Homo sapiens: one gene and its partner. The protein of the gene in region 2 interacts with the protein of the main gene of each other region in a pairwise test. Each region holds a gene or a part of one and is shown on either strand. Other genes may lie near its edges.

What was found. The genes of interacting proteins can lie anywhere in the genome.
Region 1: the proteins of MCM10 (region 2) and KLHL40 interact in binary tests that used the Homo sapiens proteins (3 or more experiments, as listed by UniProt).

Annotation. Positions count from the first base shown.
Region 1 is NC_000003.12:42,688,537-42,694,607, forward strand, and holds the end of KLHL40 (kelch-like protein 40), read left to right. Parts: intron 1-73; coding exon 74-181; intron 182-332; coding exon 333-518; intron 519-2,322; coding exon 2,323-2,469; intron 2,470-3,345; coding exon 3,346-3,457; 3' UTR 3,458-4,008; downstream 4,009-6,071. Other genes in the region: HHATL (protein-cysteine N-palmitoyltransferase HHAT-like protein), read right to left, coding at 4,215-4,339, 4,541-4,682, 5,081-5,282. UniProt on the Homo sapiens protein: Substrate-specific adapter of a BCR (BTB-CUL3-RBX1) E3 ubiquitin ligase complex that acts as a key regulator of skeletal muscle development.
Region 2 is NC_000010.11:13,204,976-13,213,154, forward strand, and holds the end of MCM10 (protein MCM10 homolog), read left to right. Parts: intron 1-4,115; coding exon 4,116-4,158; intron 4,159-4,251; coding exon 4,252-4,335; 3' UTR 4,336-6,135; downstream 6,136-8,179. UniProt on the Homo sapiens protein: Acts as a replication initiation factor that brings together the MCM2-7 helicase and the DNA polymerase alpha/primase complex in order to initiate DNA replication. Additionally, plays a role in preventing DNA damage during replication.

The DNA of each region.
Region 1 (6,071 bases), on a different chromosome or scaffold from region 2:
ATGGGTGCAGAGACAGGGACTGAGCCGAGCCTGGATGGGTGCCCTCCCCCACCCCCACTCCCGTCTCCTCCAGGTCATTCAAATGGGGTGAATCGGACCCGCTGCCTTACGTGGTGTATGGCCACACAGTGCTCTCCCACATGGACCTTGTCTACGTAATTGGCGGCAAAGGCAGTGACAGGTGAGGCTGGGCCTGGAGTGAGTCTGTGGAGCAGAGGTAGAATCTCCCAGAGGCTGTCAGGGGTTTGTCCTGGCTGCCCCGGCAGGTGATTGCAGGGAGGCGTGGCTGGGCTCCTGCTTCTCTCCACCCATCCCCACCCTCCACCCCACAGGAAGTGCCTGAACAAGATGTGCGTCTATGACCCCAAGAAGTTTGAGTGGAAGGAGCTGGCACCCATGCAGACCGCCCGCTCACTCTTTGGGGCCACTGTCCATGATGGCCGCATTATCGTGGCAGCTGGGGTCACCGACACAGGGCTGACCAGTTCTGCCGAAGTGTACAGCATCACAGACAACAAGTATGAAAGCTTGTCCCTTCCGCCAAGGACAACTGCATGGCTTTGGGCTTCTGTCAGCCCCAGCAGGAGCTGCAGTCCCTGTCTTGGGTCTCCAGTGTTGACTTTGGACATCAGTATAGAAATAGGCTTTCTCTCCTGATCAGCAGTGAGGTGGGGAGGCGGGGCAAGGGTTATGGCCAGCCTGGTCTGCAGGAGGGGGCTCCCAGGGCTGGGGGAGGGGATGCCAGGTTCCTCATTCAGGGACTCATACCAGGCAATGGCCTGGTGCAAGGGATATAGCAGTGAACAAGACAGAAGCTGCCCTGCCTGGGACATCAGAAAAGAGAAAACTGAACTGAGAGACAGTTGGACTCAGCTCGCAAAAGGGGTGAGGGTGGTGGGAGGAGGTTGCCCCAGACTAAGGAAAGGTGGTGCTGAGGCAGTTTGGAGAAAAAACTCAAGGCCTATAGGAGGGAAGGTGTTGCTCCAGCTGGGTGGAGGTGGGTGGGTGATGGAGTTGGGATGGCGGTGCTGGGGCTGGAGCGGGGGCCAGCAGGAGAGGGACTGTATCTCATCTGTGTTCTACTAAAGTACTTCATGGCAACTGATATAGAGAGCAGATTAGGGATTTCCCAGGGGTCAGGAAGGTCAGGGGTGATAAAGGCCTGGAGCTGGGGGCACAGCGGAGATGGGGTTGAGGGGATGCACCGGACAAAGACAGGCCAGGGCTTCTTACACTGTGATGGGCATGCAAATCTCCTGGGGATCGCCTTAAAGTGCAGATTCTGATTCTCGGTATGCGGAGGGCTGAAAGCCTGTAAGTCTGCATTTCTAACGCACCCCCAGGAGATGCTGACGCTGCTGGGCCATGAACCACACTTTGAGTAGCAAGAGTCTAGGAGGTGGGAGAAACAGGGCTTAGCTATTGATTGGATGTGGGGGTGAGAGGGGGAGAAGTACATGCTTCTGAGTGAGGGTGGGAGGCCATTTACTGGATAATCATTGGGATTGGGTAGGGAAAGTGAGGGTCCAGTTAGGACATGTGGACTTGAAGTACCTGGGGGTGTCCAAAAGGACCCCACCCGGGAGAGAGAGGGCTGAGCTGGAGGGAGAGATCTGGGGGTCAGTAGCACACGGAGGGGCCAAGCTCCCTCAGGAGAGAGAGTGTAAATGGGAGGAGCTGAGGTCCAAGCCCTGATGGTGGAGGCAGCTGCATTATCCAGGAAGGAGGCCACGAAGGTGAGGCCGAAGAGATGGGTGAGGAAAGTCACGTCAGCAGGGCTGTGTGCTGTAGGACCTCAGTGCGTGTGCAGTGACTGTGGACCTCAGGAAGGTCAGTTTTGGAGGATGGGACTAAGGCCCAAGGCAGGAGCCAGGGTAGCGAAGATACATTGAGAACAACTGGGCTGTGAAGGGAGAAGAAGGATAGAGCAGGTGTGCAAGGTGGGTGGGGCTGCAGGGGCCGCTGAGGGGCAAAAGGACTGCGTCCAGGGCAAGGCTGGGGGCCTGCTAGGGGCTGGGGTTGTGAGTTGGAGGGTGGAGTTAGTTCAGGAGAGGAGTAGGGGCAGTGGGGAGATCCATGGTGGACTTTGCTGGACAGGTTGGATAGAATGGCAAGAGGACAAGGAAAGGAAAGTGGAGGAGCAAGAGAATGGGGAAGGAAGGGAAGACCAGAGGGACAGGGAAGGGGAATGGGGTTGGGGGCATGGGTGCCTGGGACTTGGATTGCAAAGGGTTGCAGTTGGAGCTGTGGGTGCTGGGTGGCAGGGACAGTCACTGGGCTTGCCGAGGCATCCCAATGATGCACCTTCTCACACACCCCCAGGTGGGCACCCTTCGAGGCCTTCCCACAGGAGCGTAGCTCACTCAGCCTGGTCAGCCTGGTGGGTACCCTCTATGCCATTGGTGGCTTTGCCACACTGGAGACGGAGTCTGGAGAGCTGGTTCCCACAGAGCTCAATGACATCTGGAGGTGAGTCCCACCCTGGGGAGGCAAGGGGGCATCATGAGCAAGGCTGACACCCCATAGCACCATGGTGGGGTACCAAGGCACTGGGCAAGCTCCTCTGGGGGCAAAGCGGATCCCTCTTCTAGGGAGTCCTGTAGGGAGGAATAGCCAACATACCCTGCTTGGCCGTTTCTCACCAGTTTGTTGGGAAAGTCTGGGCTTGCACAGATGACACCATGCCCCACTGTGGAGCAGCAACAGTGTTGCAGATGGGAGCAGACCCAAGCTTAGGTCATAGACTCACAGAAACAGGGCCCAAATAGCAGCCGGATTTTCTTCTCTCCTGCCTTCCGGGTGCTTGGTCTGGAGGGAGGGCTGCCACTAGGGCTGGGAAACAGTTGGAGCCCTGGCCTTTCAGAACCATTGCTCTCTATGGCTGGTCCTTTGTGGGGGTGGGAGAAGGAAACTTTAGCCTCTGGGGCATCTCCTTCCTGAACCTGCAGCCATCTGCACTGCTGCAGGCAGCCCCTGGGGAGCAGTGCTGCCGGAGGCTGAGACGTGAGACTTAGTAGAAATGGAGCATGGAAATTCTCAAGGAGAGGACATTGATGGGGTGGTGTGGGCAGTGTAGACCTTCCTGGAGGGGAACTTTGAGGAATATGGGAACACCCCTTGAGAGGTGATCTTTCCTGGGGAGAAAGACCCTTCCTGGAGTGTGGGGTGGGTGTTCCTTGGGGTGGGTCTTGTGGGGGGTCTCCTTTCCCAGAGCCTGGGGATTTTCAGGAGCAGATCTCCCTAGAGATGGGCCAAGTGCCCTCAGCCACCCCTCTCTGCTGCGTTCCACTCTGGACTCAGCTGACCAAGCTCTCCATCCTTGTCCCCACTCTCTCTCATCCCCAGGTATAACGAGGAGGAGAAGAAATGGGAGGGTGTCCTGCGGGAGATCGCCTATGCAGCAGGTGCCACCTTCCTACCAGTGCGGCTCAATGTGCTGTGCCTGACTAAGATGTGACCAGCTCAGGCAGACTGAACTAAGCACCCCTCCCATCCTGCGACCCTCACTGGCCTGGCCTTGTGGGGGCTCCAGAAAAGAGGCTAGGAGAGGCCAGAGTCTACCTGGATCCAGTTATGGTGCCTCAGGGGCTGCGTCAGCCAAGGAAAGGGAAGTGCTGCTTAGTCCTGGACTTTTGGGCAAGGGTGAGAAACTAGAGGCTTCTCCAGTGTTGCCATATCCCCCTAGGTTGTCTTGATCCATGAACCAGAACCACAGGGCGGTATCCCAGGCCGTGTGCTGGCCCTGCCCCAGCCTAGCTGAGTGTGCTGGCAAAGTTCCCCACAGGACTCAGCCTTCTCGTCTGTCCGATGGGAGCATCCCCATCAAGTGCAGTGTACAGTGCAGATATGTCTCCTTCTTTAGGAAGAATAAAGTGCCTTCTGAGCAAGCAGCTCAGGGTCTGCATCAGTGCTCCAAGAGTCAGTGAGCAGGTGTGTTGAAGACTTGGGGCTTCAGTGTTCTGCTGTTGGGCTGCCAAGGTCGATGGTCTCTGCTCTCCATCTGGTGTCCCCTCCACCCTATGGGTGGGAACCCTCCCCTGCCTGAGGCCTAGAGCCTCCAGCTCCTCAGCCACTATGGACGTGGAGCCAGGGGACTGTGGGAAGAAGGGTCAGGGAACAGCCAAGCTGTTGTAGAAAAGTCTTTTATTCTATCGGTCAGGCCCCATCTGGCCCAAGAATAGCTGAGCAGAGCCCATCCCTCTACCCGCTCCCTCCTACTCCGGCTTCTCTTTGTCCTGCTTCTGCTCCTCCTCCAGTGCCAAGGTTCGCTCACGCTCCTTTACCAGCTGGACGCCACAGTAGGTGACAAACAGGATGGACAGCGTGGTCTGGGGGAACCCTGTGTGGGGAGGGAGTCATAGATGCTCAGGAGCAGCACTGCATCCTCAGCGACTTTTGTCTTCCCACCCCTCTCCCCGCTTGATGGGCCCTCCCTTCTGAGTCCCAGGGGTGATGAGGGAGATAGGAGGCATTTTGGAAGGTCACGGTCCTTGAGGCTGATGCCTGGCACCTTCTGTATCCCCACACCCCTGTCCCTCACCTGTGAGTAGCAGGCGCCGGGCAACCAGCTCTGTGAATTTGAGGCTGTTCAGGCTCACAAGGTTGTACATGATGATGGCCCAGAAGTTCATGGCTCCAAACAGGGCCCGGACCCTACGGGACATCTGCACTGACAGAGAGGCCTATCCGGTCCAGGAAAGCATGGGCAGCGGGACAAGAGGCCAAAGGAAAGAGGACATGGTGGGTCAGCAGCCTTACCCACCTGGCCAGTCAGGTCTTGGGGCTATGTCTGGGTCTCGGAGAGCCCCAGGTCAGCTCTCCCTCCTTGTTAAACATGGGGAAACAGGTCCAGAGAGAGGACAAGGCCTGACCAACATGGCAAGGCCCAGGTGCTCCATTCCTCATAGAAGGGAGGGAGGGGCAGATTCCTACAGAGTGAGCCATTGCTCTGACAACTAAGAGGGTGGTGGTGAGAAAGTTCTGGATTAGGGGCCAGGTGTTTGGACAACTCCAGAAAGCAGCAGTGCCCCCCCGCCCTCTATGACCCAGCCAGTCCCAGCCCCAGGTCTTCCCTGCTCACCTCAATTCGTGCTAGGGGCCCCCACTCTGCCAGTTTTTGCATCCAGAGCTCAAAGTTGAGGCCAAAGCAGTTAAGGAATGACCACAGGTAGACAATGTCACAAGGCCCAAGCCACAGTGTGGTGATGGCAAATGTGGCCACTGTGGCTGCCAGCTCTGGGATCACAGCGGAATGCTCCCCACCAATGTGGTTATACACATATCTGCAGGAAAGATGGGAGAAGGGCCACTGGGAGTGTGGGAAAGGGCAGGGATGAGATGGGAGAGGACACACAACAGGGCGTCCTCCTCAACACTGTCACCCTGGGTGCATTCAACATTCCTGACCTCACGTAGCAGCTCCTCCTCCAACCAACTTCAAATTGTGGCAGGCTCAGCCTGGGACATTATAGCTTCTCTATCTCTGTTCGTTTACTTCCCAAATGATCTCATCCAGACCCAAGATTTCAAGTACTAGCTCTATGACGATGACCCCTAAATCTGTGTCTTTAGCCCAGTCTCTCCTGATTTGTATATGCAATTGCTACTAGCCATGTCACTTGATTGACAGATTCCCCTATCCCTGCTCAAACCCAGCTCCGTCCTCATCTCAGTGAATGGCACCACCATCCATTCAGTTGCTCAGGGTATAAGCCTTGGTGCCATCTTGGATTCTCAGTTTGCCTCATCACCCACATCCAAGCAAGCCAGCAAATTCTGTTGGCTCCTCTCAGTCCTGACCACCACTCACCTCCTCTACCACCACCACCCTAGTCAAGATGATCACTCTTCTCACATAAATTATTGCAAGAGCCTCTTAAGTGGTCTTCTTGTTTCTGCTTTTGCCCCCATGGTTCATTCTCCACACAGCAGCCAGAGGCATCTTTTAAGAGTGTAGCTCAGGTCACATCACTTCCATGATTAACCTCTCTGAATAGCTCCCCATTACAATAGGAATAAACTCAGTCTCTTTACTCTGGCTAGAAGATCCCAAGTGGTCTGGTTTCTGTTCC
Region 2 (8,179 bases):
TGCTTCTCATGTATGTATGTATGTATGTATATATATATATATATATATATATATATATATATATATATATATATATATTAATTTGTATAAATTTAAGGGGCACAAGTGCAATTTTGTTACCTGGATAGTTTGTGTAATAGTAAAGTCGGGGCTTTTAGTGTAGCCATCACCTGAAATAATGTACATTGTACCCATTAAGTAATTTCTCCTCCCTCGCCCCCTCCCACCCTTCGGTGTCTATTATTCCGCCTTCTGTGTCCTTGCATACACATGTTAGCTTCCATTTGTAAGTGGGTACATGCAGTATTTGGCTTTCTGTTTCTGAGTTTTTTCACTTAGGATAATGGCCTCCAGTTCCATCCATGTTGCTGTAAAAGACATGACTTCATTCTTTGATATGGCTGAGCAGTATTCCATTGTGTTTATGTACCACATTTTCTTTATCCAGTCATCTCTTGATGGGCATTTAGGTTGATTCCACGTCTTTGCTATTTTGACTATTACTGTGATAAACATACATGTGCAGAAATCAGTGTACTGATTTCTTGTTCTTTGGGTAGATACCCAGTAGTGGGATTGCTGGATTGAATGGTAGTTTTATTTTTAGTTCTTTGAGAAATCTTCATATGTTTTCTATATGAGGTTGTGCTAATTTGCATTCCCACCAGTGTGAGCATTCCCTTTTCACCACATCCACGCCAGCATCTGGTTATTTTTTGCCTTTTTAATAATAGCCATTCTTACTGGTATAAGATGATAACTCTGATGATGAGTGTTTTTCCGAATACTTTGGACCCACGGATGGGATGCTTGAACCCACAGGTGTGGTAGGCTGACTGTGTGTGTTGTAAGTGTCTTTTGTTTCTCTTTTTACTTTTGGGGGCAACATCAGATACGGAGGCAGAGCTGCCGTGTTTGACAGTCAAGGAACATCCTTCACATAGAATACGACGATGGCACCTCTGGAGCTGGGTTAAGGAACCCTCCCTGGTGCAGCATGTTGCCGTCGCAGGTCCATCCAGTGCCCTCCCTGTTTCATTCACGTGCTCTTCTTACCCATTCTCCCTCCATCCTATCCCTTCGCACCATCCTCTGCCATTCTCCAATGGTTGCTGTGATCCTCTTGTTAATTTTCTTGTGAACGTGTACTGCTTGCTCTGCAGCCGTTTTTATTTCACATAGGTGGTACAGAATTCTGTCTCATTTGATTTTGTTTCTCACTCGGCTCTGTGTTTGTAGGATGCGTCTGTGCTCGCTATGTTCCTCGGCTTCCTAACTGATGACAGTGCCCAAGGCAGCACCCATCACATTTCGCCCACGGGCACCCTATACCCTCCCCACACAGGTCCCCTGGCCTCAGCCCCTCAGTGCTTTCACCACAATGAGTTCTTATTCTTGTCAAGAGCTCTCACTGGGATAGTATCACTGCCTTTTGGTGTGCTTGCTTATTTTCATTTGTTGTTCACTTCCTGGAGTTCATACTTCACTCTCACTTCAGATTCTCCAGGGTCGATCCAGAGATCTGAGGGAGGGAGCCAGGAAGCCGGGCTAGTTCATCACTTTACCAGGAGCTGGCTTGCCAATTTTTCACAATCTAGATTATAATTTTTAAGTAGTTATTTATATATTGATACTTGACTTTTTTCCAAACTAGATGACTAAAAATGTCATTATAGCAAGAGCTTATGGAAAACGTTAGAAAAATTAAAAAAAATTCTGTTTATTAAGTACAGGGCACAAATGGAAGGGCATGATGCCTTTCAGCCTCCAGATGGCACTGTGATTGTAAGAACCATGTTTTTTCTGGACTTTTTGTCAGTTGCTTTTTTTTTTTTCCTTCTTTTTTTGAGACAGGGTCTCACTCTGTCATCCAGGCAGGAGTGCAGTGCCATGATCATAGCCCATTGCAGCCTTGAACTCATGGGCTCAAGCGATCCTTCTGCTTCTGCCTCCTGAGTAGCTGGGACTACAGGTGTGCACCACTACACCCAGCTAATTTTTTTAATTTACTTTTTTTTATAGAGACAAGGTCTCACTATGTTGTCCAGGCTGGTTTCAAACTCCTGGGCTCAAGTGGGCTCAGCTGCCCAAAGTGCTGGGATTGCAGGCCTGAGCCACCATGCTTGGCTAGTTCTTGATCTAGAACAGAAGGCAGCACACATTGCCTGTAAAATGTCAGTGGTGAATATATTAGGCTTTGTGGGCCAGATGATCTGTCACAACCACACGGCTCTGCTGGTGCAGCCTGAAAGCAACCATAGATAATACACAGGCAACTGGGCACGGCTGTGTTCAAATAAAACTTTATTTATAAAAACTGGTGATGTGCTGGATTGGGGTTGTAGTTTGCTGACTCCTAACTAGAATAGTGATTTTTTTTTTCTCACAATTTTATCATTGATCGACATATAGGCTACCAGAGTTCTCTTCATTGATACTGAACCAGTCTCTAGAGGTGGAAGGTGATGGTTGGGAGGTTGTAAGGGCTAAGGCCACTGGCGTGCCACCTTTCAGGGCAGAAATTGTGATATGGTTTGGCTGTGTCCCCACCCAGATCTCATCTTGAATGGTAGCTCCCATAATTCCCACAAGTTGAGAGAGGGACTCAGTGGGAGGTAATTGAATCATGGGGCAGGTCTTTCCCGGGCTGTTCTCATGAAAACAAATAAGTCTCATGAGATCTGATGGTTTTATAAAGGAGAGTTCCCTGCACACACTGTCTTGCCTGCCGCCATGTAAGACATGCCTTTGCTCTTCCTTCGTCTTCCACCATGATTGTGAGGCCTCCCCAGCCATGTGGAACTGAGTCCATTAAACTTCTTTCCTTTATAAATTACCCAGTCTTGGGTATGTCTTTACTAGCAGCATGAGAACAGACTAATGAGAACGAGTAGACTCTAAGCTAGGTAAGGGGAAGGGGAGACAGGCAGAGCATCCCCACCCCACCCCAACCCTCTGAAATCCAAGTAAGCAGGCAGACATACTTCCTTAGCTTTATTATATGTCTTCTCTCTTTCTCTCTCTTTTTCCCAGAGTAAACTTCATAGGAAATAAGTTTTCACCATAGTGTTCACATCCCTTCTCAGGGTGGAAGTCACCCACCATTTTAAAAACTAGAGCAAGAAGGGCTGGACTTGGTGGCTCATGCCTGTAATTCCAGCAGTTTGGGAGGCTGAGGCAGATGGAACACTTGAGCCCAGGAGTTCAAGACCAGCCTGGGCAACATAGTGAGACTCCCCATCTCTACAGAAATTTAAAAATGAGCTGGGCATGGTGGTGTACACCTTTGGTCCCAGCTACTCAAGAGGCTGAGGCAGGAGGATCACTTGATCCCTGAAGATCAAGGCTGCTGCAGTGAGCTGTGATCGCACTACTGCACTCCAGCCTGGGCCACAGAGTGAACCCTGTCTCTAAAAAAAAATAAAAACAAAACAAGAGTCCCTGGGCCCTTTGAATAAAAAGAGAGTAAAGAGGCTGGGCACAGTGGCTCACGCCCGTAATCCCAGCACTTTGGGAGGCTGAGGCAGGCAGATCACTTGTGCCCAGGAGTTTGAGGCCAGCGTGGGCAACATAGCAAAATCCCATCTCTCCAAAAAAAAAAAAAAAAGGAAAAGAAAAGAAAGTGAGTAAAGGCTTTTGGGTTATAAAGAGAAAGGGAGAAGGATGATCCAGACTAGAAAGAAGATTATTCCTTTCTTAGCTCAACCTTTTTGCTCCAAAAAAAAGAGGAGGAAGGGGCCAAACATAGATTATCCTGCACCAGAGGGCCAGCTCCTTAAATCTGAGTCTCATCCCAACCACCATCATTTGTAAAAACCAAGGGTGCATTCATTACCTGCAGTGCGTGGATCCCTGTGGTGCCATCATTATCATTTGAAGCTCCATCTCTGAAGCCTCTAGCTTTGTAAGGACCTACAGACCACTTCCCAAGTCATTGCAGGTTTATTTTTGTCGCATTTGAGCATAACCTCAGATTTGGCATACAATACGAATGTCACCTTGAACAGCTTCTCCTTGAATGGGGGCCTACTCTCCCCAGGTGCAGTGAGCACCGTCGTCTTTACATGAGTGGGCCTACACCACCCTGCTGAGTAAATCCATCTGTTCTGTTTCAGTAACTGTGGCCTCTACAAATGGGAACGGGACGGAATGCTAAAGGTATGCCATTTGCGTACTAATTTTTGACTCCTTTTAGTGACCCATGCTAATAATGTGGAACCATCTCCTATTAAAATATTTTCATTTTTCTAGGAAAAGACTGGTCCAAAGATAGGAGGAGAAACTCTGTTACCAAGAGGAGAAGAACATGCTAAATTTCTGAACAGCCTTAAATAACCCGAACTTCAGACATTTTCCCACAGACTTCCTGGCCTCCTGTGACTCTGGAAAGCAAAGGATTGGCTGTGTATTGTCCATTGATTCCTGATTGACGCCGTCAAAAACAAATGCTTGTTAAGCCCATAAGCTTTGCCTGCTTACTTTCTGCCATTGGGTTGGTTTGATACCACATTTAACATTGACATTTAAGTGGAAAACCAAGTTATCATTGTCTTTTCTAAGCTCAGTGTGGATGATTGCATTACTTCATTCACTGAAGTTTTTGCCCAAAAATTGGAAGGTAAACAGAGAGCTATGTTTCTGTATCTTTTGGTTATAGAGTGTTCACTTCTTTATCATAACAAAATTCTAGTGTTTATACGAACACCCAGAGGCAAAAGAATTTGGCTTAATTCTCACTCCAGGTAAGTAGCTTAACTTCTGGGCTTCAGTTTTCTCATCTGTAAAATCAGGAAGATTGGACTAAGTGATCCTGAAATGTATTTTTTAGCACTGGATTTCTACAAATAATAAAACTTTCCCATCTAGATAATGATGATCACATAGTCTTGATGTACGGACATTAAAAGCCAGATTTCTTCATTCAATTCTGTTATCTCTGTTTTACTCTTTGAAATTGATCAAGCCACTGAATCACTTTGCATTTCAGTTTATATATATAGAGAGAAAGAAGGTGTCTGCTCTTACATTATTGTGGAGCCCTGTGATAGAAATATGTAAAATCTCATATTATTTTTTTTTTAATTTTTTTATTTTTTATGACAGGGTCTCACTATGTCACCCTGGCTGGAGTGCAGTAGTGCGATCGCGGCACACTGCAGCCTTGGCTTCCCTGGGCTCAAGCAGTCCTCCCACCTCAGTCTCCCAAATAGCTAGGACTACAGGCGTGCGTGACCAAGCCCAGCTAATTTTTGCATTTTTTGTAGAGATGGGGTTTTGCCATGTTGCTCAGGCTGGTCTCAAACTCCTGAGCACTAGCAATCCACCCACCTCTGTTTCCAAAAAAAAAAAAAAAATGAAAGGTCAACCCCTATGCAAATTACCACAGCAAAGGTTTCATTCAGGAGATTCTTCCATCTGGGCAACCTGGTTTTCCAAATATCATTTGACCTAAGTGAATGTTGATACTAGCTAAAGATTGGGTAAATTGGTTGAATTATTGTATTGAAGCTTGAGCTGTAGCTAAAAGTAATTTAGGTTTCCCCTAAGATGTTATTATGTTAGGGACATAACACTTTTGGGAGGTTGTTGTGGGAGATGGTTGATTTAGGTTTTCAAAAGCTAGAAATAAAATTTACATGCCTTAGATTTCATAAAATTCTGCTCTAATTGGGTGGAAGGTGCTGTATCTAACTTGTGTTCCTCCTAAGGTTATGTCCTAATAACTATTCTTTTAGGAGTATACTTCTACTTTATAGAAGGTTGCTTTTCTTTTTAATTTTTTCTAACAAAGAAAAGAATAAAGTATTTATTAATAAGAACCAGAAAGCACTTGAAACTGATGTTTTTAATGGCTCATTTAGGGTAGATTTATTTATCTCATTAACTTAAAACAGCTATGTGTATGAAATAGGTCACAACAGAACTTGAACACCAGGTTGGTGTCTGAGCAATCCCTTTCTTATGGGAAAAACAATGTTCTTGTTTGAACAGAGGGTATCATTGCAGTCAGTATTCACGTGTATATTGTTATATAAGTTGTATAATATGCTTGTAAAGGCTGAGGGTGAGCTGTATCTGGATGCCTTTTTACAATTTGATTTTAACTTTTAAAATAAATTTAAAACATAATTGTCACTTCTTAGTTTTGCTCAATCTTGGGGGACTTTGCTTTGAGGTGCTCTGTGCATGTGCTTTCTTAGCATATTTGGGGATGAGACGCGGTCGGTAGGGGTGGGGTAGGGAAACTTGTTATTTTATTTTACTTATTTTTTTGAGACAGAGTCTTGCTCTGTCACCCAGGCTGGAGTGCAGTGGCGCAATCTTGGCTCACTGCAACCTCCACCTCGTGGGCTCAAGCAATCCTCCCACTTCAGCCTCCCGAGCAGCTGGGATTACAGGTGGGCGCCACCGTGCCTGGCTAATTTTTGTATTTTTAGTAGAGAAGGGGTTTCACCATGTTGCCCAGGCTGGTCTCAAACTCCTGGCCTCAAGTGATCCACCTGCCTCAGCCTCCCAAAGTGCTGGGATTACAGGCATGAGCCACTGTGCCCAGCCTAATCCTACCTTCCTTATCAACCTTTATGAAATGCTTTCATGCAAATCCAACATATGTGTTTTATTTTTCTTAACCTGTCATTGGTAGCGTAGGGATTAAATGTGTAATCACAGGCCACTGGAACAGGTAAGTACACAGTGATCTGAACTAGCAAACAAAAACAACCGTGTCCTTCAAGGAGAACCTGGTTGATCTAAAGTTAATAATCTTCACAATAGATTTTTTTTTTCTTTTTACTGTGCCTTTTTCTGTTTAGAGGAAATAAATGGCTTTCTAAAGAAAATCATCTTTGTCTCGAGTTTCGTTAAAATAAATTTTCCCTTTCCAAACATCAAAAGGAAATCTGAAGTATTTTAGATACCAACCATCCTGAATAGCAAATGAGGAACTTCTGAATAATGGGTGTGGAATTTTCCCCAAAGGGAACTTCAACATTCAAAGCTTCAGGCGGACTGATGGATAACAAACTTGACAGGAAGAGATCGCATGGATTGGGTTTCTGTGTAGAAACTGGTGATGACAGAAGTAAAGCTTGATGTTTGTAGCAGGTGAAATCATACCTAATGACATTTTAGAAAATCTGGAGCACAAATCTATGTGCGTAAGTATATCTCTAGTAGCAACCCATTAGGTGTAAAATAGACTTCTCTGATCCCATGGCTAGAGATTTGGAAATAATACAGCTTTCAAGAATGATGGGTGAAATCTGGCTGGGCGTGGTGGCTCATGCCTGTAATCCCAGCACTTTGGGAGGCTAAGGCGGGTGGATCACCTGAGGTCAGGAACTGGAGACCAGCCTGGCCAACGTGGTGAAACCCCGTCTCTACTAAACATGCAAAAATTAGCTGGGCATGGTAATGCACACCTGTAAGTTGGCTAAGTAATTTGGAAATAAGATCTGAAACAGAATTGGAACCAAATCTGTGGGAATGTTGCTTGACCAAGACTTCTATGGTAGGTTTTTGGTTTTTTCGGAGTCTCACTCTGTTGCCCAGGCTGGAGTGCAGTGGTGTGATCTCGGTTCACTGCAACCTCCGCCTCCCAGGTTCAAGCAATCCTCCTGCCTCATCCCCCCTAGTAGCTGGGATTACAGGCACGTGTATAGTGATATTTTTAAAATCAACTGTGTTAAAGTATAAATTTCTTACAGTAAAAGGCGCATATCTTAGGTGTGCAGTCAGCTGCATTTAGACAAATGTATACATCTGTGTAGCCACACCACAAGCAAGATACGAGACACTGCCATCATCCCAAAAGGCCTGTACCTCTTCCCAGCCCCAGCCCCAACCCATCAGGCATCTATTTTCTGTCACTATTGTGTAGATTTGTCTTTCCTAGAATTTCATATACACAGTCATACAGGACACACTTTGGCTTCTTTCACTGGGCATAATATTTGGCAATTCATGTTGCATGGATCCATGGTTTATTGTGTTGTATGAATATGCCCCAGAATTTATTCACCTGTTGGTGGGCATTTGGGTTGGATTTCCAGTTTGGGGGTGTCCTGAATAAAGCTGCTATAAATATTCAGGTATAAGTCTTTCTGTGGCTATGTTTTTGTTTCTCTTGGGTAAATACCTAGGAATGGAATTTCTAGGTTATGTGTTAAGTATATGTTAG